Linked DNA regions of Homo sapiens. The protein of the gene in region 7 purifies or fractionates together with the protein of the main gene of each other region. This does not show direct contact. Each region holds a gene or a part of one and is shown on either strand. Other genes may lie near its edges. The genes, in order: FIRRM, IQCB1, PDSS1, HGFAC, MPZL1, ITM2B and FCGRT.

Region 1 (3,500 bases), on a different chromosome or scaffold from region 7:
TGATAAAATCAATGAAGTGTGTTACGACCAGCAATTCTTTAAAAATAAACTAGTATTGGCTGGGCACGGTGGCTCATGCCTGTAATCCCAGCACTTTGGGAGGCTGAGGCAGGTGGATTACCTGAGGTCAGGAGTTCAAGACCAGCCTGGCCAACACGGTGAAACCCTGTCTCTACTAAAAATACAAAAATTAGCCAGGTGTGGTGGCGGACGCCTATAATCCCAGCTACTCATGAGGCTGAGGCAGGAGAATCGCTTGAGTCCGGGAGGCGAGGTTGCAGTGAGCCGAGATTGTGCCACTGCACTCCAGCCTGGGCTACACAGTGAGACTCTGTCTCAAAAAAATAAAATAAAATAAAAATAAACTAGTATAAAGTGCATCACATGTAAAATGAGTTATTTCATTATAATATGTATATGAGAATAGACATATTTACATACACATATGCACGTATTTATATGTATTCTGGAAGGAAATATAAACTGCATCTCAATATCAGTTATGGTTAAAAAAATGTGAAAGTTATTGTCTCTGAATATGGACAACCTCAGAGATTATAAAGTTATATAAGTTAATCATTGTGGAGAAATTACAGTAACTAAATACGCAAATCTAGGTTAAGGTACCCAAAATAAATTTTACAAATTCCAAATTTCAAGATTAAAAATTTATTTGGTAAGATTTAAATCAATTTTAATGCATAATTAGTAAGAAAATAACATGAATCATTAGAGACAATTTTAATTGATACATGATTTATAGTCACCATATACTAAGCAGAAAGTTTTCTTCACTCACCTATTACCATATTCAAAATATCATCATTGTCATCTACTAAAGGGTCCATGCAAACCATGTCCAGCAGTTCCATTAACTGCTTTTGAAGAGAATAGGCCTCCTTGAAAAGAGCCTGGAGAAGGTCTGAAACTAGGTGTAAACACCCAGAATACACAGATTCACTATTCTGATTACGGATAAATAAAAATGAGAGAAAAAACAAATCAAAGCTCAAGAGCCAAATTTACTTTAATTCATACTATTAGAGATCATAAATTTACTGAATCACATATTCATTCATTGTTTAGTGAACATCCATTAAATATAGTGTGCTTCAAGAGATGCAAGCATGTATAAAATATTATTTCTGACTTCCATGATCTTGCAAATACAGAACTAAAAAAGGGTAACATTAGGCCAGGTGCGTGACATTTTTAGCATCCTATCAGCAAAGAGAGGTATTAATTAACTAGTGATTTTCATTCGCCCAACAAATAGCAATATTAAAACTGTCTGTGACCCATAAATTCTAGGCAAGCTTTTGTGCCTCAAGGCTACCTCTGGCATGTAGAGATGGACTAAATAAGGATTAACTTTCCTTTATAAAAGGAAGTTCTGACATCTAATCATAATGGTAATTGAATATTGGTCAATGCAACATGACATAACTATTTCAGGATCCCTGTGTCTGTCTCAACACAAATTCTTAAAACTTCTTTCTTTATAGAGGGGAAATAAGATAAAACTAAAAAACCCCAAAAAGCCACTTTTAATGACTTCCTTAAAACCACTTTTTTTGCAACAATTATTTACTTACATGTTCTTTATTCTATGGAAAAGTTTATTTCAATAATATAGACTAAAATGTAAAATCTTATACAAACATTATTTTACTCAGCCCCTATGCACATTGATTATATACCATTCAAAGTATAATTAGACCTTTACTCACCTTACAATGCACAAATGTGCTTTTAATTATATGAAGGACTGAGGAGGGGAGACTCTGAATATTTTCCAAAATGATGGATTCCTGTGTGGCACAGATATGCTGAACACATCCTGTGAGAGCTCCTAAGAGCTGCACCATTGTCTGTGAATAAGGAAGGAAATTTCACTTAGAATATATTTTTTGTGCACTGAAAAGGTATTAGTCAGCATGCTGGGTGCTACAAATACAGCAATGAACAAAACACAGTCTCTTCCTCTTTTCACAGAACTTTAGTCTATCAGAACTACAAATACTGGAACAACTGTCTAGCCATTTAGAATACTAACACAAACTTCAAAACACATGGCAGGTGTTCCACACATATCCTTGAAAATACAGGTAGGGTCAGCTAGCTTGATGACTTCTCTTCTTATAAGAGTTTATTATTCAGAATTCATGTTTCTATATTCACGTCTTTAATTCTATAAATTTAATTCCAACATTAGGCCATTACATAAGAATACATAGCTAATCAGTATCAGTATAAAAATTTTGACATTCTTTAAGCTCCCTCTCTCTCCTGCTTTCTAATACATTTGACTTACTTGTAAAATATTCCTTAGAGTGGTCTGGATTTCCAAATTTTGGCTTGACAGTCCTCTGGCTTGACTGGTTAATTCATACATCATGTCATCGAATAATTTCACAGTCTGTAAAAACAAATCAAGTAATAAACAGGAATAAGAGAAATCACTAGAAAAGACAAGACAAAACTTTACAGAGAAAACACAATACGATAATTTGATTTTGCACTAGTAACATCCACAGGCTATCATCTAGCTTAACAATTGTACCTAATTAAGCACAAAATACAGAGAAAAGGTATTTTTACAACATAATCCCCCCAAAAGCCCCAAACAGAAATTTATTTTCCATTTCTATGGTTTGAATCTATTTAATAGCATCAATTTTTTTAAAAAATCACTCAAAGTTCATGTTTTAGAGATGCAAAAAATAAAAGTATTACTTTCGCACAATAAATTTGACTGTCTTGAAGAATCCACATTCATACAGTCATTTACAAGGGTATTTTCTGGAAGGAATTTGCACTGAATCGCCTATTCACTACTCACTTATTTTCTAACCAGTTTCCTTTTGACCCAATTCAAGCTAACCTTCCTGAATTAAGGGTATAGTAAATGACCTTACAAACAAGCTTTTTGTCTGTGAAAAGTTAGCCACCCTAGATCTTAATACTTGGATCTTTCTAACAATTTAAATGACCTAAACATTATAAGAATAGCAACACAGTCAACAATACAATGTAGCTAAAGAAAATACTGTTTCCCATAGGCCTGTTAACACTCAACATCCATTTTCATCTATGTAACAGTTGAATCTTTTTCTGGTGGTCAAGAACAAATTCTAAGAAATATTTCAGATAGAGAATCATCAAGTGACTATGAGTACAAGAAATTTGAAAGATTACGATTCAAAGCTAAAGTTAGAAACCCATTTCAATAAGAGATTAATTACAAATAATGTTTCATTTTGGCACCAAAGTATCTTTAGTTCCCTCCATTTAAAACAAAAAAGGTATGCTTGTGCTTTTCAGAGAAAACATATACCATATATATCTAAAATGTAATAATGTATTCTGTGAATTTAATGTTTTCTCTTAGTTACTTGATTTTGCCAATATTCCAGCTTTTCTTTTTTTTTTTTTTTTTTTTGAATTAAGGGTTTCACTCTGTCACCCAGGCTGGAGTACAGTGGCTTTAAAATACAAGA
Region 2 (3,500 bases), on a different chromosome or scaffold from region 7:
TAAGGTTTAATATAGTCAGCAAATATCATGCAATTTTTTTTTTTTGTAACTTAATACCTGCTCTTCTACTTCCTGATAGACCATTGGGCTTAAAAGGCCAACAAGCTGTCTAAGTTCTTGACTGAATTCAGTCCCAGTTTCCTGTTTACTTAGTAGACGTCTGAGTCCTGAAATGGAATAGCAAAAGGTACAACTATTATTATAATAATAAAATATGATTTTGTTATCTAATCAGTATTAATTTGAAGCTAAAAAGTCTGGCTTAAAAACAAATGAAAACAAGATTAATCATATGATTTTTCTTTTTCCTTTTCTCAGAGAATTCCAGGTTGAAATCTTTAAGATATTCCTCCCTCCTGAGAATTCTTACGTGCTCAATTGTGGTATCTGATAAAAAAAAAAAAATCTGTCTAGACAATCTCTTTAATAAAAAAAAAAAAAAAGGAGTGGGATGGAATCACTGTGGTAAATCAAAAAGTAGAGATAAATTTTTTTTATTTGAACAAAAATACTTAAATGGAGACATTTTAAAGATAAATTACTACAGACACATATTCAGTAAATGCTTGCCCTGTGGAAGCACTTATGCAGATTATTATTAGTCATTATTAGTTGAAAAAGATTATTAAATATAAACATATGGTAACATATATAATTTGGGGCAAATCAATAGGTTCCTGGGAAAACATTATAGGTGAAGTGCTACAACACTAGGATAGTACATTTTCATGCCAAAATAATACATAGTAGTAGTGAAAGGTACAAAGTAAGTACTGTTTCCAGGGTACACTGAAATGATGTATTATAATGTGTGTATTCAAAATAAATACATAAGGTAAAATTGCCTTGTAGTGTATAATTGGGGAAACCACTATATGGATCTTTTAATGCCTTATACTCTCTTCAACACCCAAGTTCTCAGCAGTATTAATAATTGTAAAATATCTTCAGGAATCTGAATAAGTTCTGCTATTGAGATATAAGTCAAAGAAAGGGAGAAGGATTCAGGTAAAATTCCTTTATAACGACTCTGTTGGACATTCACATTTCTTTAGGAATTGAATTACAGAATTGAAAAATGTCTATCTGGCACAATATCAACTAAAGAGCTCTATTACTGGTACTTTCCTTCTCTATTCCTACAATACCCTCAGTAATGACTAATTCAAGGTACATTATTACAATGTCTTCAAAATCATCAAGAATGATAAAGACCTTTCTAGTTGTTTAGGTATTAAATGCATCATATTATATTCTAACCTTTAAAAATTCCCATACAGTATAACCCTATGTTAATAAGTATATTTAATGAACTAGAATCCCATTTCCTGACCACGCTGAATAAGAAAAATAGATTATAATACATACATGGCTCTGGTCAGCAAAGAAATAAAACAAAGATAACATATAACTTTGCTTGGCAATTAAACAATATATATACTACCTTTGTGATCTTGGGCAAATTACCATGTCTCTGTTTCTATATCTATAAAATAAGGATAAGAATATCTATCCCATAGGATTGTTGTAAAGATTAAACATTTTAATGCATATAAAGTATATGGAATGTGCCTGACACACAGTAAATGCTCAATTAAATGAAAGCTATTATATGAGAATGTATATACGCTTACTCCTTTTATCCTCAAAATTTCTGACTTTTAATTCACATATGTATTTGATTTTGGAGGTAAGGCAATTTTTTTTGTTTGTTTTTGAGGAAAGGCAGTGTTAAGTAATTATTGATAGTTCAAAATACCATAAGGGCCACTGGCCTCTCAAGCACAGCTCCATTTTCTCCACTAAAGCTGGTCTTGATAAGGTCACTGATCTTTTTGGTCATTATTTTACTATACTATATGGTATATTCAACACACAAAACCTTTTTGTCAGAGAGGGAGTAAATATTTATGGCAACCTGATCAGAAAAGTATCTTCCACATGCTATCTGTAGTGACATGAAGATAGCTTGATTATATAAAGACTTTTTTTTTTCTGAATTGGTATCTGTTGTGAGTTTTATCTACATAGGTCAGTTATCAACTCTTTAAAATATAAGAATTTTGTTTTTCATAAACCATCAATAAAAATTTTCTTTTTGAGAATCCCAAGAAAAGAAAGAATGAATGTACTACCTTTGTAGCAGGTACTTTGTCTCAGTAAAATCAAAATTTCCTGATGGGATTCAGCCATCAACAGTAGGAGTTTTGTAGCAGTACTTCTTATAACTGGACTAGGAGTTGAAAAAAGCTTGAAAATAACTTCATCTAAAATTGAATACAGGGCTTTTCTTCCTATTCTGAGTAAATCACCACTAATAGAACAAAATAAAAAAAAAAGTACCATTACTAATTGATGTACAGGTATCACAACAAATCTAAAATATAAGATTCAGTAACTTGATGCCGGACTGTGTCCTGATCCAAGAATATAACCACTTTTTCAAATATATGTTGGTTCCAAGAAGATATCATATTCAGTCACTTAATATTTATTGAATTCCTACTGTGTGCAAGGTGCCATGTGTGCTAGGTACAATAGAGAATACAAAGTAGCCAAAGGCCTTCTCCTTAGAGAAGCCTGCAATCAAATCAAGGATGAAATATAAATGTGCAAAATACTAAACAATAAATAATTTAAAAGCTTCAAGGCAATGATAAAAGTGAAATCAAGACAGGTACACAGTTAATTTTTAAATGATGTACAAAGACAAAAATGCCATAGGAATTCTATCATGTGCTTAATATAGGAGAAACTTAAAATCTTTCCTTGGTATTTCCTTCATTATACTAACAACCCATCTTGTATTACTGATGTTGTGAAAAATTATCTAAAACTTAGAAATAGTCAAAAGGAAAGGGTTAGTGAGTATCCTTTTATTTACCCCCTTAAGGAGTTATGTGATTTTCTAGGCGTATGTACCTCTGTTTAATTTTCTACTCACTATTAAAATACTTTACAATTCTGTAAAAATAGAGGTTGGCTGGTAGAAAACAATGCTAAAGATTCTTATCTAAGAGCAATGTAAACAGACTCTTATTCAAAGCAATACAAATGATTTCTGTCCAGTAGAAAAGGTAATTCTAGAAGCTACATTGCTTTATAAGTCATATTTTCCTATTAGCAAATTTTAAAAATCTATCAGCAAATTTACTTCTACATTTCTTCGACAAACCAACTCCATAAATCTATTTTCCTCAAATTCTCCTTTGACCCTGTATAAATATCTTATTTGTTCCCTCATTAATGAGTTGCATAAAATTTTGAGCAGTCAAATTTTATATTTGTATAAGACTCATGTTTGAGCTTTTTGAAAATTGTACTTTAGTAGTTACTAAAATAATTTTGTTAAGAGAAAAGAGATCAGCAACATACCTTAAATGTAAAAATCTCTGAGTTGAAAGACTTTATAAAGTTATCCAATCAAAATATGTGAGAATCTTTGTGACATCTACTTCTGTGCCACTGTGTCTCTTACATGCTATTCCCTATGCCTAGGA
Region 3 (3,500 bases), on a different chromosome or scaffold from region 7:
TTCTAAGTTTCTGAGGCCTCCCCAGCCATTCAGAACTGTGAGTCAATTAAACCTCTTTCCTATAATTATAGATTGCCCAGTCATGGGTAATTTCTTTATAGCAGTGTGAGAATGGACCAATACAGATAATTGGTACCAAAGTAGTTGGCATTGATATAAGATACCTGAGAATGTGGAAATTACTTTGGAACTGGGTAACAAGCAGAGGTTGGAATAGTTTGGAGGGCTCAGAAGAAGAAAGGAAGATGTAGGAAAGTTTGGAAATTCCTAGAGTCTTGTTGAATGGCTTTGACCAAAATGCTGAAAGTGATATGGACGATGAAGTCCAGGCTGAGGTGGTCTCAGATGGAGATGAGGAGCTTCCTGGGAACTGGGCAAAGGTCACTCTTGCTATGCTTTAGCAAAGAGACTGGTGGCATTTTGCCCCACCCTAGAGATCTGTGGAACTTTGAGCCTGAGAGAGATGATCTGAAATTGGAACTTAAATTTAAAGGGGAAGCAGAGCATAAACGTTTGGAAAATTTGCAGCCTGAAGATGTGATAGAAAAGAATTTTCTGGGGAGGAATTCAAGCTGGCTGCAGACATTTGCATAAGTAACAAGGAGCCGAATGTTAATAGCCAAGAGAATGGGGAAAATGTCTCCAGAGCATGTCAGAGACCTTCTCTGCAGCCCCTCCCATCACAGGCCAGGAGGCCTAGGAGGGAAAAATGGATTCATGGGCTGGGCCCAGGGCCCTGCTGCTCTGTGCAAGAGCAGCCCTGGGACTTGGTGCCCTGCTTCCCAGCCGTAGCTAAAAGGGGCCAAGGTACAGCTTGGGCCATTGCTTCAGAGGGTATAAGCCCCAAGCCTTGGTGGCTTCCATGTGCTGCTGAGCCTGCAAGGTGCACAGAAGACAACAATTTGGGAACTTCTGCCTAGATTTCAGAGGATGTATGGAAATGCCTCAATGCCCAAGCAGAAGTCTGCTGAAGGGGGGAGAACCCTCATGGAGAACCTCTGTTAGGACAGTGCAGAAAGGAAATGTGGGGTTGCAGCCCCCACACGGAGTCCCTGCTGGGGCACTGCCTAATGGAGCTGTGAAAGGAGGGCCACCGTGCTCTAGACCCCAGAATGGTAGGTCCACCAACAGCTTCCACCGTGCACCTGGAAAAGCTGCAGGCACTCAATGCCAGCCCATGAGAATAGCAGTGGGGGTTGAACCCTGCAAAGCCACAGAGTCAGAGCCACCCAAGTTCTTGGGAGCCCACCCTTTGCATCAGTGTGACCTAGATGTGAGACATGGAGTCAAAGATCATTTTGGAGCTTTAAGTAATGACTGCCCTGCTGGGTTTGGACTTGCATGAGGCCTGTAAGCCCCTTCGTTTTGGCCAATTTCTACCATTTGGAATGGGAACATTTAACCAATACCTGTACTCCCATTGTATCTTGGATGTAACGTAACTTGTTTTTGATTTTACAGGTTCATAGGCGGAAGGGACTTGACTTGTCTCAGGTAAGACTTTGGACTTGGACTTTTGAGTTAATGCTAGAATGAGTTAAGACTTTTGGGGACTGTTCGGAAGGAATGATTGGTTTTGAAAAATGAGGATATGAGATTTGGGAGGAGCAAGGGGCAGAACGATATGGTTGGTTCTGTGTCTCTACCCAAATCTCATCTCAAATTTTAATCCCCATGTGTCAAAGGAGGGCCTATGTGGAGGTAATTGGATCCTGGGGGCAGATTCCCCCATGCTGTTCTTGTTATAGCGAATTCTTATGAGATCTGATGGTTTTATAAGTGATTGGTAGTTCCTTCTGTGTTCATTCTCCTTCCTGCTGCCTAGTGAAGAAGGTGCCTTGCTTTCCCTTTTCCTTCTGCCATGATTGTAAGTTTCTTGAGGCCTCCCTAGCCGTTTGGAACTGTGAGTCAGTTACACCTCTTTCTTTTATAAATTACCCAGTCTTGGGTATTTCTTTATAGCAATGTGAAAACATACTAATACACCTCGTTTCTAAAAATCAGCTACGCATTGTGGCATGTTCCTGTAGTCCCAGCTACTCAGTAGGCTGAGGTGGGAAGATAGCTTGAGCCCAGGAGATTGAGGCTGCAGTGAGCTATGATTGCACCACTGCACTCCAGCCTGGAAAAATAAAATAAAAGTAAATTCATGAGAGGCAAGGTTGACTTTCAGAGAGTGTGTGAGGGAAAGGTAAGAAACAAAATCGGAATTAGAAAATGACTGTTGCCCCTCTCTTTTCATTCTTCACTGCTTTTCTGAGCACCTCTCACCTCCCTTTGAAAAACTGCTCTAAAGTACTTTTAAAGCAGAAAATAGTAGCTTGATTGAATAGATACTGTATTAAATGTATATTGTGTACCAGGCTCTGAGCTAAGAGCTTTACATCTGCTCTCTAAATTAATCTCCACCTCTCTCCATGAGTAGGTATTATCAGAAAGACATCACAAGGTAACACAAATGTTGAGATTTGAACCGAGATCTGTCTTCCAAAGTCCATGCTACTAATAATTGTTAGGCCACTTGGTGGTAAAAAGCGTCCCCTGTATTAATTAGCTGTGTAATTTTAATCCTTCAACCCAGATTAGGGGTCTATAACTGAATAACTAAAAAGTTATTCAGTTAGAATAGTTCAGTTAGTTATTATAACTAATCATAGTTATTTGGTCAAGCGCAGTGACTCACGTCTGTAATTCCAGCACTTGGGGAGGCTGTGGCAGGAGGATCACTTTTGCTCAGGATTTCTAATAATAGTAACTATTACTAGAGACCTGATAATAATTATTAAGTCTCTTACTGAAGAAGTTTTACTCTTCCATTAAGATGCCCTTATTTATAAGTATTATAATAAAATACTGAACTCATATGAATTAATTACCCATGTAGACTGAAAGACATAGGTTGTCATATAATGGTTGTCATATAAAGCATGAAGGAGGATTGTCACTTTGTTTTCTTGTTGCACTGTAATTGCCTGGGATATCATGAAAGTTCTTACTGGTTTAATGAATATGTAATGCTGTGGGGGAAAGAATGAAACTCAGGCCAACTACTTTGACTGGTGTCTGGCAAAGTCAACTTTCATTGTCATTTTAATATGGCGCCGGGCGCGGTGGCTCACGCCTGTAATCCCAGCACTTTGGGAGGCCAAGGCGGGCGGATCATGAGGTCAGGAGATCGAGACCATCCTGGCTAACACGGTGAAACCCCATCTCTACTAAAAATACAAAAAATTAGCCAGGCGAGGTGGTGGGCGCCTGTAGTCCCAGCTACTCAGGAGGCTGAGACAGGAGAATGGCGTGAACCCTGGGGGGCGGAGCCTGCAGTGAGCCGAGATAGCGCCACTGCACTCCAGCCTGGACGACAGAACGAGACTCCGTCTCACAAAAAAAAAAAAAAAAAAATATGGCTAGAGCAATACATGTTCATTAGAGAAGAATCAGAAAATATCTACCAAAAGAAGGAATAAAACAAAACACCCCCACAATCCGATTCATTCCAG
Region 4 (4,097 bases), on a different chromosome or scaffold from region 7:
CCCCCATTCACCGTGCCCCCAGCACCCACCATGCCTCCACATTCACCGTGCCCCCAGGGCCCACCATGACCTCCCCCCCAACCCCCAACCCCCCATTCACCGTGCCCCAGGGCCCACCATGACCTCCCCCCCAACCCCCAACCCCCCATTCACCGTGCCCCCAGGGCCCACCACGCCTCCATGTGCACTGTGCCCCCTGGGGCCCACGGTGTCAAGCTGGGTGGTCAGTGGGTGTCCATTCTCTCTCCCTCTGCACAGACAGGCAAATGGGGGGCAGAGAGAGGGGTTTTAGGGGATACAGGGAGGCAGCTTCAGCCCTCGCTGGTCTCCAGGCCACAGTGGTTCACTCACCCCTCCTCCCACCTCGGCAGCCCTGGGATGTCGCTGCTGACTCAGGAGGAACCCGAGGTGCCGTAGCGGCTGCTCCAATATTGCAGAAGAGGTTCCTCAGGCAGCTCTGCCCACAGCCCCAAGTCACGAATTCCGTGACTCCAGCTCCATCCCAGGCCCCAGGGTACCTGGCCCAGGGTTGTGCTGCCGCAGACTTGGCCTGTACCATCCAGGCGGCGGTGGGGAGCTGGGGTTGGAAAGGCTTCTTGGAGTGGACTCCTGGGTCTGTCTGGGAGACGGGGAGGAAGGGACACTCTGAACATCACCAGGGGCTGCTGGGGGGCCCTGGCCACCCCCAGAGTCAGAACAGGCAGGTGGGGCAGGATCTCAGGTCATCCTATGCTACACTCAGCCATTGCGTGGCCCCTCTCCTCCCTGTGCCTGGCCTTTTGGCCAGCCCTGGGGCCACCGAGAGGATGCAGCACCGAACCCTCCAGGAGCCCCCAGTGCTGCCGTCTGTGGGACAGGGACAATCCCATCCCCACTGCTACTGTCTGTGCTGTGCTGGGCACAGAGCTGGACACCTCCAAGGCCCAGCGCCCGTAGTGGCTCTCATCATGGACAATTCACAGGCAGATGGTGGCCAGCTCTGTGGCCTGCAGGGACTGGGAGCGGCGCCAGACCATCTAGGCCCCAACCTATCTGCATTATCCTGGAAGACTTCCTGGAGGAGGCTTCTAAGCTGAGGCCCAAGGACCATGTCAGGTCTAGGACTAGGACCAGTGCAGGCCGAGGCCAGAGAGACAGCTGGGCTTCCAGGTAGGGTCAAAGTGAGGTGGGCAGCAGGTGTGGGGGCCAGGGGACTCGGGGACTTCCTCTCCGGCTGGGCCCGCCTGACGTGGGAGGCAGCCAGGGTTAATCATTTCCACGAAGCCTTGACCCCACCTGCCTTGGCCGCTCTGCTCCCGCCTCCCACTGCCCCTCAGGCCAGCTCAGGAGCCATGGGGCGCTGGGCCTGGGTCCCCAGCCCCTGGCCCCCACCGGGGCTGGGCCCCTTCCTCCTCCTCCTCCTGCTGCTGCTGCTGCTGCCACGGGGGTTCCAGCCCCAGCCTGGCGGGGTGAGCACTGACCTTGTCGCAGTGCGACCAGAGGTTCCCAGTGGCTACTTGGGGTCCTTGGGAGGAGGCCAGAGGGAGGGTCGCCACAGAGCGTGGGGATTTGAGGGGGCGGGGGTCCGAGCAGGGGGCTTACGTTGAAAGCTGGCCCTCACAGGGCAGGTGGGTGCTGGACTGGCCTTGGAGGCTGGGGCCTGGGCTCACGGAGCCCCACCTGGGGGCTGTCATCCCTGTGCGGCCTGGCCTGGGCCCCTATGGGTCTGGGGGCTGCCCCCTCTCTCTGGACCTCTGTTGGGTCTGGATGCGTGAGGTTGGGGGAACCTCCCAGGGCCTCCTAGCTGCTCCCATCACCAAAAACTGACGTCAGGGTTTAAGCTTGGTGGGTAGCAGTGCCTGGGCCTGGGCAGTGACCCTGAGCAGGTGTTAACTAGGGGCCGAGGGCGGGGAAGGTGTCAGGGCCTGGCTGAGGCCTCAGGAATGTCGTGTGTCCTCCTGGAACCTGCTCCGAGATCTGGGGGCCCCAGTATGGAAACAGGCTCAGGGCTGTGACCTCCTGCCCGGCAGGACCTGAGTGTGAGGGTCTGTCCCACACTGACACCCTTTCTGCTCCTCCTAGAACCGTACGGAGTCCCCAGAACCTAATGCCACAGCGACCCCTGCGATCCCCACTATCCTGGTGACCTCTGTGACCTCTGAGACCCCAGCAACAAGTGCTCCAGAGGCAGAGGGACCCCAAAGTGGGGGGCTCCCGCCCCCGCCCAGGGCAGTTCCCTCGAGCAGTAGCCCCCAGGCCCAAGGTGGGTCAGGTGGGCCTGGGAGGAGGTGTCGTGCTTCACCTTAGGGCTGGGTGGGAGGAGCATGGCTGCGGCTGGAGGTCCTGAGGGGCTCGGGTGCCCCTCGAGGGAGCCCTGACCCTGCCACCCCCTCCCCACAGCACTCACCGAGGACGGGAGGCCCTGCAGGTTCCCCTTCCGCTACGGGGGCCGCATGCTGCATGCCTGCACTTCGGAGGGCAGTGCACACAGGAAGTGGTGGGTCCGGGCAGCCGGGGCACCCGAGCTGGGGTCACCTGCCCCACGCTGCCTGCTTTTCTGGGAGCCGGGCACACAGTAGGCGCTCACCACGCAGCAGGCGGACCCAGTGAACCCAGAGACCCTCCAGGGTGGTGGGGTGGGGTGGGGGGCCTCTGCCTGGGACCCCCATGCACGCAGGTGTCGCCCCCCAGGTGTGCCACAACTCACAACTACGACCGGGACAGGGCCTGGGGCTACTGTGTGGAGGCCACCCCGCCTCCAGGGGGCCCAGGTGGGTGCTGGGTTGGGTAGCCTGGGGCGGGCAGGGGGCACTGGGCCAGGCCAGAAGGGCCAAGGGGAGGATGGGGCGGACCCGGGCAGGGGTCCTGGCTGGAGGGGAGCAGAAGAGGAGCTCTGGGATTAACCCCGGTGGGTGCCACTTAGGGCCAGAGCCTCTCCCAGGTGGGACCTGCGTCTCATGGTGGCTGCGCGGCCATCGCTGGGGCCAAGGCGCCGCCTGGTGGTGAGGCCGGGCCCTGCAGCCACACAGGCGTGCCCCAGGCAGGGGACAGGTGGGCAGGGTCTGTGGGGTGCGGTGCCAGCCGCCCTGCTCACATGGGTCCTGGGACACATGGGAGGGGTCTGCTGCCTGACAGTGTGGGTGTCAGGCTTCCAGGAAGCCACGTGCACAGCTGGGCCAGTGGCCCAGGTGTTGAGTGGGGGACGCTGGGAGGAAGGGGAGGTCTGTGCCCCTCCCAGGGACCTTGCACCCCGAGGGGCGTAGAGAGGGCCCCTTTGCTCTCAGAGCCCCTCACTGGGGCCTGATGGACGCCTTAGCAAGCAGAGAATGTCACAGAGGGACCCTGAGCCTCCCAGTCCGCCCCTCACACCCCCTCCCGCATGTCCCCAGCTGCCCTGGATCCCTGTGCCTCCGGCCCCTGCCTCAATGGAGGCTCCTGCTCCAATACCCAGGACCCCCAGTCCTATCACTGCAGCTGCCCCCGGGCCTTCACCGGCAAGGACTGCGGCACAGGTGAGCTGGGCCTCGGAGGTCCGCAGGGGTCCAGGGGCCGGAGCAAGTCCCCGGAGGATGGGAGAACAGGTGGCTCCCGAGTGCAGGGCAGGGGCCCTGCACGGGGACAGCAGGTGGCAGGGTGTGAGGGCTTACTGTGCACCCCTCAGAGAAATGCTTTGATGAGACCCGCTACGAGTACCTGGAGGGGGGCGACCGCTGGGCCCGCGTGCGCCAGGGCCACGTGGAACAGTGCGAGTGCTTCGGGGGCCGGACCTGGTGCGAAGGCACCCGACATACAGGTGCGCCACGGGGTGTGAGCCGTGCCACTGACCCCTGACGGGTGTCCCTGTCCACACCCGAGTGGGAGGAATGGCCTGAGGTCACCCAGAAACAAGGGACAAGGGGTGGACCCCGGCCCCGACTCCGCTGTCGTGGGGCACTGCGCGGCCCCTGGCCCAGCTCCTCGGCCCTGCCCCCAGCTTGTCTGAGCAGCCCTTGCCTGAACGGGGGCACCTGCCACCTGATCGTGGCCACCGGGACCACCGTGTGTGCCTGCCCACCAGGCTTCGCTGGACGGCTCTGCAACATCGGTGAGTGGGTCAGCCCCCCGGGGTGCCCTGGGGC
Region 5 (3,500 bases), on a different chromosome or scaffold from region 7:
TTAAGAAAAATGTGAAAAGGCTCCTTTTAAAAATAAATTTTAAAAAATACTGAGAAGCACTGCCTTAGGTAATCCCTAAAACCTATGAGGCCGTAAATATTATTAGCAGATTTTTCTACCTGAGAGAGAAATAATACATAAGGGAAATCATACCGTATTGAAGTTTAAACAATTCTAACCTGTGTGGTATGGCCACAGGTGAATAACTCTTGAGTCAGTGTCTCCCATCCTCCCCACCCTGTCTTCCTCATAGAGCTGTGAAGATTAAATGGCATAGGCATATGATGGGCCCAACATCTAGGTGGTGATCAACAATGTAACTCACCATTCAGAAGAAGAATTGGGCATTCTTAAAGATAGATGACAGACTGTCCTTGCTAAACACTGACAACCTGAAACATGCAACAGTACTAAAATATGTGCCAATATATGAAGGGCATTCCACATGCTGGGAGAGCAACAGTAACAACAAATGGTGTATTTTAGTAACTCAAGAGCTAGACACTCTCCTGAGCACTTATCTTGAATAATCTTACTTTATCCTCCTAACACCCTTGTGTGGGAGGTTTTATCGTCTCCATTTTACAGACCAGAACCAAGATAGTCAGTTCATGTTTAATAACCAGCACTCCACTAGTTACTAAATAACCTTTTTTCAATGCTCTGGTGCTGTATTTCTGTTACATCCTTTATCTTACTCCAAAGTCATCTATATATCAGCCTTCCTCCTAATCATCTCTAGGTGAGAGCAAGGATTCTGTTTTAGACATTTTTGAAGGCCCTACATAACCCACTACATAGTAAGCTCCCAAATCAATATTGCTAAATCAGATGGACTATACGCTAAATTAAAAAAAGATAATCAAATCAGAAGATGCATACATATATATATAAAATTTGATAATACATAAAACAAATATCAATAAATATGGGGCAATAAAAGATGAAAAGATGCAGGATAAATCCTGATTAGAGTCAGTGTGGTCAATTAAGATCAATTTCAGAATGGGATTTGATGGTGGAGAGGAACTGATCAAAGACAAGGAAACCAGACGCATTTAAGAGATGCTGAACTTATTTTATCCTGAAGCAAAAGAAGGGCCTTGAAGTCTATAACAGATAAAAAATACACTCATTTTGGAAATGAACCATCAGAAAAATGGATCACCAATTATACAGCAGTAAAGAAACCTGTGAGGCAGGACTAGCCAAGAGAAGTCAAGCATTCTTACCGACACAGTAGTGTCGGCCCCCTCTGGCTGGAAGCTCCAGGAGACTGAGGTCAACCCGCCAGTCGTACTAGTAGACTTGAACTTGCAGGTCAGCTTCCCTTGTGTACCATTTGCCACGAAGATTTCTTTTGGCGTATATACTTCCAAGGCTGATACTCCAGCTGTCACTGAAGAGAAAGGAATAAGGGTAGTTGAAAGTAGGACTTAACATGAATACCACTGTGCATTTTTGCCAGACAAGAAAAGATACAGCAAAGTTACTAGATATATACAGTAATTCACTGCCATTACATATTTCTGGCAGAATATTCTACAGCTAAGTTCAATCAGAATAGCACTATAAACAGAATAATTGCTGACAGTTTAGGTTTGTATTGCTTTTTAGTTAAGATATTTTTATTAGTCTGGTTATATTGAATTTTTTTTTTAAACTAATAGACTTTTTAAAGAGCAGTTTCAGGTTTACAGAAACATTGAATAGAAGGTAGAATTCTCATATTCCCTCACTCTCCCATGGCCAACCTGTTTCTCCTATTATTAACATCTGGCATTAGTGTTATACGTTTGTTTTAATTGATGAGCCAATATGGTTACATCATTGTTAACCACAGTCCATAGTTTACATTAGGATTTGTGTTAGTGTTGTAGATCTTATGGATTTTGACAAAGGTGAATAGTGACGTCTCCACCATTACAGTATCATACAGAATAGTTTCACTCCCTAAGCATCCCCTGTGCTACACCAATTTATTCCTGCCGTCCTTCCCCCCACACCCCTGGCAAACACTGACCTTATACTGTCTCTATAGGTTTGCCTTTTCTAGAATGTTATCTAGTTAAAATTATACAGCATGTAGCCTTTTAAGGTTGCCTTCTTTCACTTAGTAATATGCACTTAACTTTCTTCCGTGTCTTTTTGTGGCATAATATCTCATTTCTTTTTATTGCTGAATAATATACAAATTGTATGGATGTACCACAGTTTATTCATTCACCTACTGAAGGACTTCTTGGTGGCTTCCCTGATGGTCTATTTTTAATGAGGTGATGGGCATATTTTTATTTCTTTAAGTAGTTCTCATGCTTATCTGTTACGCAATTGTTATCACACTGAACTTTTCTCATCATCCATATGTAATGCAATTAAAACTATCCTAAGATATAACTTCATTTTAAAGCCACATTTATTATTTAACTGATCCTTTTCTTATAAAGAACTTAAGGAAGAAAAATGCATGTTTTGGTTTTGTTAGTGCAATCATACCTACCATAAGATTTCACTGTGCTAGGTAAGTAAACAGCTGATTACACCGTATATCACATTTTCATTTCACCCATCAAGTTTTGTCAGTTAGCCTAAGCCCAGGAAATAGTAATTGAAATGTGTCTACCACTTAGAATATAAAAATGGCTCTTTTTTCAAGATCTGCAATAGTAGGCAACTGCAGGAATTGTTAAGGATTGCTGTTAAAAGTATTTGCCAAATTCTTAAAGATTGCTAATTTGAACATACTGCTATAAAAGAAATGCTTTCACAGACAAAATGAAAGTCAGAAAAAAAAAACTTATTTGGCCCAAAATTGGTAACTTAAAAATACCCATCTTCCATATTTTTTAAAGAAATCGTTTGGAATAAATATCTGCAGTGTTGCAATAATTCTTAGAATGTAACAGACGGGCAGAATAAGGAAGAGTATTGTCAGCCAGGACTGATGGTCATTTTCAGAATTTTTTCTCCTTGAAGACTTAACTGACTCTCAGCCAAGGAGAACAAGAGTACTCCCCCATTCCTCCCAACCATCTTGCAAATGTTTATTCTCAGGACATAATGGGCACTTTTGGCTATTCTTTTAAATAAACTGATAGCCATACTGCATCAAGCAGATTTTTTTTTCTGCGAAAGAGGGTGGATTATTATTACAGGGAACAATAGATTATTATTTGCGGTCCAAACCTCAAAACAAGCATTTCTTTCAGAGGAGATGCAAACAAAAGAGTTCCTTGCTATTGTGGGTACGCAGAAAAGCAGCCCCAGGGCACTTGAGTTCAAAATGAAGGACAAAGCACAAGACTAGACTAGTGGACCAGCTTATTCCAGGAAGCAGCACTGGCTTGCAACCCTTATTCACTCTGTGTGATTTTGACTAGTTTTCTCCATGGTGATGAGTACTGGAAAGCCACAGTCTCTAAAAGTCTATAAATAAAGTTTCTCAAGGATTTTCTTTTCTTTCTTTCTTTTTTTTTTTTTTGAGACCGAGTCTCAATCTT
Region 6 (3,500 bases), on a different chromosome or scaffold from region 7:
TAATAAAATATTTTGAGAAACCACCTTCACATAACTTTTATTATAGTATTTTGTTATAACTGTTTTATTATTATTGTCGTTAATCTATTACTGTGGCTAATTTGTAAATTAAATTTTAACATATGTATATATGTACACTAACAGGAAAAAACATAGTATATACAGGGTTTGGTACTATATGCAGTTTCAGACATCCACTGGGGGTCTTGGCATGTATCCCCCACGGATAAGGGGGGACTACTGTCCTATAAGATCATGTTAATTTTCTTAGATGTGATAATTATGTGGTTACGTAGGAGGACAACTCATTCTTGAGAGATAATAGCATAAGTACTTATGTCAAATGACAGAAAAAGAGATGAAGCAAATATGGCAATATTTGGAACAAAGTGGAGGATTTTGGGTATTCAACTTTTCTGCATTACATAAAAATGCTCAAAAGCTGGGGAAAAATATAGAATGAGAACTTAAAAACAGATTAACAAAATTATTGATTTTGAAAATGCTACCAAGAAACAGGAACATAAATTACCTCTTATCTAAGAAAATGTGGGAACATATAAAAAATATTAGTTTGCCAGCAAAGGAGGAACAGTCATGAGGTGGGCTTTAAGAGTAGGTAAGGCAAGGGGAAGGAGAGATAAGATATGAGAAGGCTGCATCAGCAGGGTCTGCTTCAGACATAGCAGAGCCCACCAAATGCTGACAGTTTATTAAACTAAACTCTAAATATAATAAATTAGCAAATATTGAAATTAAAACTACAAAAAGCATAAACTACAGAACCTGCATTCTTTCTACAATTCTGGACACTTGGCTCACCTTGTTAAAGTCATGAACAATGTTGGCAGGATCACTATCTGCAAACTCTGGGACAGGCACACTGATAAATTCAACTTCTTCTTCTTCAAAGATTTTAATATTTTCTTCAATTGTCTGGTAGAGAGCAGCTGGGGCATCTGCAGAGGGCTCATTTAAGATGACATCATCTTTGATGTACTTTATTCCACAGTAGTACACGTCATCTGGCTATAGAGAGTTTAAAGACTCATTTCAGCAATTCAGCATGAGACAGGTTTTTAAATAAGCATTACTTAAGCTGCCACCTCTATCTAAATAGCATTTTGCTTGCAAACTCTTGCTTTTAGATGACAAGTCAGACAGTTTAATTACAGAGTTAACATATTCTTTAAGATCAGGTTTTGAAGCACTGTAAAAGAACAGCTTCAGAAGAAAGGCAGCTGGTTTTCCCTTTACTTTTCCTGGTAGGTGAAAATAGAACATAAAAATAATTAGCTATCCAGTAACAAATAAATATAAAGAAACAACAGACCTACTCTACCTGTAAGCAGTTTTTATAGAAGAATACATTCCAAAACTAGTCAAGTTTTTCTGAAAGAATATATTAAAAAGTTTTGATATGGTCTACTAATTAAATGACTTTTTTCTTATTAGCCAAAAAAGGGATAATTTTTCTGAAATTTCTATATGCATATACGTAGTTCTACTTTTCCCTTTATATCACAATTCAGTGGAAAATATTAGATTACAGCAAATCTTTATGCTACTGTCTCACTTTTACAAAAAGAAAAAACAGTACATAAGGTCGGGTGCAGTAACTCATGCCTGTAATCCTAATACTTTGTGGGGAGGAGGCCTGAGACAGATGGACTGCTTGAGCCCAGGAGTTCAAGACCAGCCTGGGCAACATGGTGAGACCCTGTCTCCACAAAAAATAAAAAAATTAGCTGGGTATGGTGCCACGCACCTGTAGTCCTAGCTACTCCTGGGGAGGTTGAGGCGGGAGGATTGCCTGAGCCCAAGAGGTTGAGGCTACAGTGAGCTGTGATTGCACCACCGCACTCCAGCCTGGATGACAGAGTGAGACCCCATCTCAAAAAAAGCCAAACACACAGTACATGTACACGTGCGCGCACGCACACGCGCGCGCACACACACACACACACACACACACTACACACACTACACACACAATAAAGACTAAGGGTATACAAAATGTGAATGCACAGGGCCAGGCATGGTGTGTCACGCCTGTAATCCTAGCACTTTGGGAGGCCAAGGTGGGTGGATCGCCTGAGGTCAGGAGTTTGAGACCAGCCTGGCCAACATGATGAAACCCTGTCTCTACTAAAAGTACAAAAATTAGCCAGGAGTGGTGGCAGGTGCCTGTAATCTCAGCTACTTGGGAGGCTGAGGCAGGAGAATTGCCTGAACCCGGGAGACAGAGGGTGCAGTGAGCCGAGATCGCGCCATTGGACTCCAGTCTGGGCAACAAGAGAGAAACTCTGTCTCAAGAAAAAAAAAAAAGTTAATGCACCAAATGTTATCTCTGGAAAATGGAATTGCGATGATTTTTTCTATACTATATGTATTTCTTGTAAATAAAACTGTATTTAAAAAGATGACTAGTATTTTGGTAATGTCTATCAACATGTGATTGATTATCTTGAACAACACAGAAAATGAGCATGAAATTGAGAATGTTTCAAAATTAGTTAAATTATTTTAATAAGTCTAGTTGTCAACTGTTTCTCCAAATTTTGAAACAGCTGAAGTAGTCATAAAACCTTGAAAGTAATTTCCCCTTCAAAACTCCTAAAAAAAAAAATTGTGTATTATTGCCAAGAGAAATATATTACAAAATAGATTGTAAATTATAATCAATCACAAGGAAGACCTTTGTCTTAACCCACTGGGATTACTATTAAACACTCAAAGTTATAAACAACTTTCATCCTATGTTATTTCAATATCACTGCTGAAGTCACCCAGTTCTTTAGTGAAACCATGACTGGAAAAGAAGCAGAGACATGGTCTTACTGTATTCTGGGCCCAAGGGTACAGCAGGACCATAGGGGAGTCCAAGCTGACTATCAAGTTATGGCCTATCAACATGAAAACATTTGTGGCTGATGTATTTATTCAACTGGCAATTGATAATACTATTCCTCTCAACCCTTAATTATAGTAGGAAAATAAAGGTTAGTAAAATCACCCAATGACCTAAATAAATCCCTTAGTCACCAACATTTCAAGTTACTCTGCTTTTAGTGACTGTGTGTGATGGGCTCAGCAAACATATCATGGAGAGATGTTTAAACACAGCTTTAAAATAGAACTACCACTCTGGCTGAAGGTCACAGATAAAAAGTACAAGCTTAGCGCAAGTTGTAAACAATTTTGTAATGCACATCGGGAGAGGCAAAAAAAAAAAAAAATCAGAGACACAAAATAATTTTTCCACTTACTTGAAGTGCAAAATATTTGTACAAGTATGCTCCTCCTAGAATAACACCTGCAAGCATAAATGCTAGTCCAAAGCACATGCACCAACACCAGGCTCTTCTTTGGCCAACTGGTACCACATCATCTGGGTCCTAAAATATGAAAAAGACAGTTAAATATCTTATCTCCAGACAGAATAACAGAAGGCTCAGGACTAGAAAAACCTTAATGATTATCATTTTAATAAATGAAGA
Region 7 (4,145 bases):
AAAAGTATAAAAATTAGCCAGACATGGTGGATGTGCCTATAGTGCCAGCTACTCATGAGGCTGAAGCAGCGGAATCCCTTAAACCCAGGAGGCGGAGGTTGCAGCGAGCTGAGATCACCCTGCTTCACACTAGCCTGGGCAACAGAGATTGTGCGGAAAAAAAAAAATTAGCCAGTTATGGTGGTATGCACCTGTAATCTCAGCTACTCAGGAGACCAAAGCAGGAGAATCGCTGGAGCCTAGGAGTTCAAGACCAGCCTGGGCAACATAGTGAGACACCGTGTCTACAAAATATAAAGTTAGCCAGGTGTGATGATGCTGGGCTGTGGTCCCAGCTACTTGGTTGGCTGAGGTGGGAGGACTGCTTGAGCCTGGGAGGTTCAGGCTGCAGTGAGCCGAGATGGTGCCACCACATTCCAGCCTGGGGTGACAGAGCGAGAATCTGTCTCAAAAAAAAAAAAAAGGGGGGAGCCAGGAGCAGTAGCTCATGCCTGTAATCCCAGCACTTTGGGAGGCTGAGGTGGGCGGATCACCTGAGGTCAGGGGTTTGAGACCAGCCTGACCAACATGAAGAAACCCCGTCTCTACTAAAAATACAAAATTAGCCGGGCATGGTGGTGCATGCCTGTAATCCCAGCCACTCGGGAGGCTGAGGCAGGAGATCACTTGAACCCGGGAGGCGGAGGTTGTGGTGAGCCGAGATCGCGCCATTACACTCCAGCCTGGGCAACAAGAGCGAAACTCCGTCTCACAAAAAAAAAAAAAAAAAGAAGGCAAGGAAGGAAGCCAGGAGTTTGTCCTGGGGGGCGCTGGGGAGCCATGGGAGGGCTGAGTGTAGAAGGACCCCTGAGGAATGGGGGGGCAGAGCGTGGGCTGCAGTGGGAGGCTGATGGAGGGTCCTGGCAGGGGAACTGAGGCAGGTGGGCATGACGGGAGAGAGGACAGAACAGCCTGCGGCTGCAGATCCGGCTCACCCTTCCACTCCAGGTTTCCGCGGCCCCTCTCCAGGTGCTCCCGCAGGCGGTGCGGGCAGGAGAATAGCAGGAAGGTGAGCTCCTTGTTGGCCGCCTTGTCCTGCTGCTGCCACCGCTGACTGATAGCCAGGGCCTCGGGCCAGTCCCCACCCCAGGTGCCCTGCTTGAGGTCGAAATTCATGAACTCCTCGCCGTTCAGGGCGAACTTGGCGGTGGGCACCGAGGTGTTGTCAGGGCCCAGTTCACAGCCCAGCAGGCCCTGCAGAGTGTAGGGACCTGGGGCGCCCAAACACAGGTAAGCGGGGCCCCGGAGCATGGACCCGGCCCCTTGCCCCTCCAGACCGGAATCTCACCTTTTCCCCCCAAAGCTTTGAAAGCTTCCAGAAAGAGCTTCTCCTTGATCCTCAGATCTGTGGTCTCTTTCTCCCAATACCAGGACACCTGGTTTTCCCAGACCCAAGCTCCACAGGGCTCCGCCTCGCCCCGCAGGCTATTGTAGCTCAGGTACTGCTGCGGGCCCAGCCAGCCGGACACCCAGAAGGCAGGAGTCCCCGGGGCAGGCGAGGACACCGCGGTAAGGTGGTACAGGAGGGAGAGGTGGCTTTCTGCAGACAGAAACAGAGCTGAAGGGAGCACACGGGCGGGGAACTAGACTGCAGTGGGACAGATACCCAGGGAGGGAGAAGAATCTATTATGGAGGGAGGGGGACAGATTCAGAGAGAGGGGACAGAAACCCGGGGGGGGGGGGACAGAGACCCAGAGAGAGAGAGACAAGAGACCCAGAAAGAGAGGGGGACAGAGACCCAGAGAGAGAGAGGGAAACAGACACAAGAGGCGACAGGTGGTTCCCAGCCTCAGGCCCAGCAGGAGACGTTGAGAAAGTTAATTGAGCGGAGAAGGCAGCGCCAGGGGCTCGCGGGGAACTCGGGTCCCGCTGGCTTCGCCCCTGCCTGCCTGGGGCCGCCTCCCGCCGCCCGCCTGCAGCAGGGCCCTGGCCCGGAGCGGCCCTCACCTGCGCCCAGGCTCCCAGGAAGGAGAAAGAGCAGGAGCCCCAGCGCCCAGGGCTGAGGCCGCGGGACCCCCATGCTGAGAGGACGACCTGGGGCGGGAGGGGGCACGTGACTCCTCCCGACCCCCGGCCCGCCCCTTCCTCCCGGGACACCGCGGGCACGGCCGGGACCAGGACGCCGAGGAGGGGCTCTGCGGGCTCGGTCCAGACTGACAACAATGCCCTCCTCGTACCTGAAGAACTTTCACCCCTGAACTGGATCTCAGTTGGTTAATTAATTACAGACACTTGATAGGCTGAGAGTCCCGGCCCCGAGCTCCGCCACGCCCCTTCCGCCCCCCTCAGGCCCCAGCCCCTCCTCCCTCAGACCCCGGAGTCCAGGCCCCCAACCGCTCTTCCCTCGGACCCAGGAGTCCGGGCCCCCAACCGCTCTACCCTCGGACCCAGGAGTCCGGGCCCCCAACCGCTCTACCCTCGGACCCAGGAGTCCGGGCCCCCAACCCCTCCTCCCTCGGACCCAGGAGTCCAGGCCCCCCCGGCCCCTCCTCCCTCCTCCCTCAGACCCAGCGTCCAGACCCCCAGTCCCTCCTCTCTCAGACCCAGGAATCCAGGCCCCCACCCCTCCTCCCTCAGACCCAGTGTCGAGACCCCCAGCCACTCCTCCCTCAGACCCAGGGTTCCAGGCCCCCAGCCCCTCCTCCCTCAGTCGGGCCCTGGTCGGCTCACGTTCCCTTCAGCCTCGCTCCCTTCCTGCCTGCGGCCCTGGCCGGCTCCTGGCTCCCGTGACTGGAGACCCCAGTTCCTCTCTCACATCCTGTGGGAGGCTGCTGCTCCCTGACTCCAAGAACATCCAGCCCCACCCCCCAGTTGCAGGGCACACCCCAGGCCCTAGGCCCAGCCTGTTTGTTTCTCAAAACGCTTGTGGTTCTTCTTTTTCCTTCTCTGTGGTTCCCGTTTTTTACTTTGAGGGTGTCTGCCGCTCAGGGAATTCTTGACAAAACTGGGAAAGGAACTCGATGCCTCCGGAGTCCACAACTTGGAGGTCTCTGGATCCTCCTCCTACCCCTCTGTATCCCCGTGGCCTTCCCTAGCGCTCGCTGTTAATCAAAATCTTCTGGAAGCCTCCTTAGTTCCTCCTTCAAGCCCTTCCCCCGGCATCCCCTTAAAAAATTCCTGCAGGTGCTCTTTAATATCCTTCTGCGGGCCGGGCGCAGTGACTCACGCCTGTAATCCCAGCACTTTGGGAGGCCAAGGCGGGCGGATCACGAGGTCAGGAGTTCGAGACCAGCCTGGCCAATATGGTGACACCCCCGTCTCTACTAATAATACAAAAATTAGCTGAGCGTGGTGGTGGGCCTGTGGTCCCAGCTACTCGGGAGGCTGAGACAGGAGAATTGCTTGAACCCGGGAGGTGGAGGTCGCAGTGAGCCGAGATTGCACCACTGCACTCCAGACTGGCAACAGAGCGAGACTCCGTCTCAAAAAAAAAAAAAAACCACATCCTTCTGCTAGGACTTCAGTGACCACATGGTCCCCATACAATGCTGCCTCACTCGAAGGCCCCTCCAGGCACCAGCCCCCGCCCACACTCCTGCTACAAAGCTTCCCATACACTTATTTCATTGTGGTAAAATATTCAAAATATTTACCCTTACTGTCATTTAACACATTTACAGTGCTGTGCAACTGTCACCTCTATCCGAGTTCCAGAGCTTTTTTATCACCCCAAACAGAAGGTCTGTCCCCGTTAAACAGCCGCTGCTCCCAGACCCCTGGCAACCATTCATCTGCTTTCTGTCTTGATAGATTTGCCTATTCTGCACATTTCAAAGAAATTGAATCATATAATATGAAGTCTTTCCTTCCTTCCTTCCTTGCCTCCTTCCTTCCTTCCTTCCTTGCCTCCTTCCTTCCTTGCCTCCTTCCTTCCTTCCTTCCTTCCTTCCTTCCTTCCTTCCTTCCTTCCTTCCTTTCCTTTTTTTTGACAGGGTCTGGCTCTGTCACTCAAGCTAGAATGCCGTGGAGCGATCATGGCTCACTGCAGCCTCAACCTCCCAAGCTCAAGCACTCCACCTGCCTTAGCCTCTCAAGGAGCTGGAATTACACACACTTGCCACCAGGCCCAGCTAATTTTTGTATTTTTGCAGAGATAGTGTCTTGC

Evidence for each region.
Region 1: the proteins of FCGRT (region 7) and FIRRM purify together in Homo sapiens (affinity purification with mass spectrometry; 2 studies listed by BioGRID and IntAct, with this or other methods). This does not show direct contact.
Region 2: the proteins of FCGRT (region 7) and IQCB1 purify together in Homo sapiens (affinity purification with mass spectrometry; 2 studies listed by BioGRID and IntAct, with this or other methods). This does not show direct contact.
Region 3: the proteins of FCGRT (region 7) and PDSS1 purify together in Homo sapiens (affinity purification with mass spectrometry; 2 studies listed by BioGRID and IntAct, with this or other methods). This does not show direct contact.
Region 4: the proteins of FCGRT (region 7) and HGFAC purify together in Homo sapiens (affinity purification with mass spectrometry; 2 studies listed by BioGRID and IntAct, with this or other methods). This does not show direct contact.
Region 5: the proteins of FCGRT (region 7) and MPZL1 purify together in Homo sapiens (affinity purification with mass spectrometry; 2 studies listed by BioGRID and IntAct, with this or other methods). This does not show direct contact.
Region 6: the proteins of FCGRT (region 7) and ITM2B purify together in Homo sapiens (affinity purification with mass spectrometry; 2 studies listed by BioGRID and IntAct, with this or other methods). This does not show direct contact.

What each region holds. Positions count from the first base shown.
Region 1 is NC_000001.11:169,801,540-169,805,039, reverse strand, and holds part of FIRRM (FIGNL1-interacting regulator of recombination and mitosis), read right to left. Parts: intron 2,420-3,500; coding exon 2,315-2,419; intron 1,872-2,314; coding exon 1,731-1,871; intron 966-1,730; coding exon 800-965; coding exon of another isoform or gene 792-799; exon of another isoform or gene 654-791; intron 1-653. UniProt on the Homo sapiens protein: Regulates PLK1 kinase activity at kinetochores and promotes faithful chromosome segregation in prometaphase by bridging kinase and phosphatase activities.
Region 2 is NC_000003.12:121,797,061-121,800,560, forward strand, and holds part of IQCB1 (IQ calmodulin-binding motif-containing protein 1), read right to left. Parts: intron 2,315-3,500; coding exon 2,136-2,314; intron 168-2,135; coding exon 58-167; intron 1-57. UniProt on the Homo sapiens protein: Involved in ciliogenesis. The function in an early step in cilia formation depends on its association with CEP290/NPHP6.
Region 3 is NC_000010.11:26,700,701-26,704,200, forward strand, and holds part of PDSS1 (all trans-polyprenyl-diphosphate synthase PDSS1), read left to right. Parts: intron 1-1,457; exon of another isoform or gene 1,458-1,461; coding exon 1,462-1,494; intron 1,495-3,500. UniProt on the Homo sapiens protein: Heterotetrameric enzyme that catalyzes the condensation of farnesyl diphosphate (FPP), which acts as a primer, and isopentenyl diphosphate (IPP) to produce prenyl diphosphates of varying chain lengths and participates in the determination of the side chain of ubiquinone.
Region 4 is NC_000004.12:3,440,671-3,444,767, forward strand, and holds the start of HGFAC (hepatocyte growth factor activator serine protease isoform 2 preproprotein), read left to right. Parts: upstream 1-1,297; 5' UTR 1,298-1,331; coding exon 1,332-1,448; intron 1,449-2,061; coding exon 2,062-2,242; intron 2,243-2,379; coding exon 2,380-2,476; intron 2,477-2,670; coding exon 2,671-2,750; intron 2,751-3,368; coding exon 3,369-3,491; intron 3,492-3,640; coding exon 3,641-3,772; intron 3,773-3,952; coding exon 3,953-4,063; intron 4,064-4,097. UniProt on the Homo sapiens protein: Serine protease that hydrolyzes the inactive zymogen hepatocyte growth factor (HGFsc) to an activated disulfide-linked heterodimer, then initiating hepatocyte growth factor receptor signaling pathway.
Region 5 is NC_000001.11:167,763,482-167,766,981, reverse strand, and holds part of MPZL1 (myelin protein zero-like protein 1 isoform a precursor), read right to left. Parts: intron 1,400-3,500; coding exon 1,233-1,399; intron 1-1,232. UniProt on the Homo sapiens protein: Cell surface receptor, which is involved in signal transduction processes. Recruits PTPN11/SHP-2 to the cell membrane and is a putative substrate of PTPN11/SHP-2.
Region 6 is NC_000013.11:48,253,706-48,257,205, reverse strand, and holds part of ITM2B (integral membrane protein 2B), read right to left. Parts: intron 3,399-3,500; coding exon 3,270-3,398; intron 1,030-3,269; coding exon 823-1,029; intron 1-822. UniProt on the Homo sapiens protein: Plays a regulatory role in the processing of the amyloid-beta A4 precursor protein (APP) and acts as an inhibitor of the amyloid-beta peptide aggregation and fibrils deposition. Plays a role in the induction of neurite outgrowth.
Region 7 is NC_000019.10:49,511,316-49,515,460, reverse strand, and holds the start of FCGRT (IgG receptor FcRn large subunit p51 isoform 1 precursor), read right to left. Parts: upstream 2,801-4,145; 5' UTR 2,711-2,800; intron 2,196-2,710; exon of another isoform or gene 2,075-2,195; 5' UTR 2,061-2,074; coding exon 1,988-2,060; intron 1,580-1,987; coding exon 1,328-1,579; intron 1,251-1,327; coding exon 975-1,250; intron 1-974. UniProt on the Homo sapiens protein: Cell surface receptor that transfers passive humoral immunity from the mother to the newborn. Binds to the Fc region of monomeric immunoglobulin gamma and mediates its selective uptake from milk.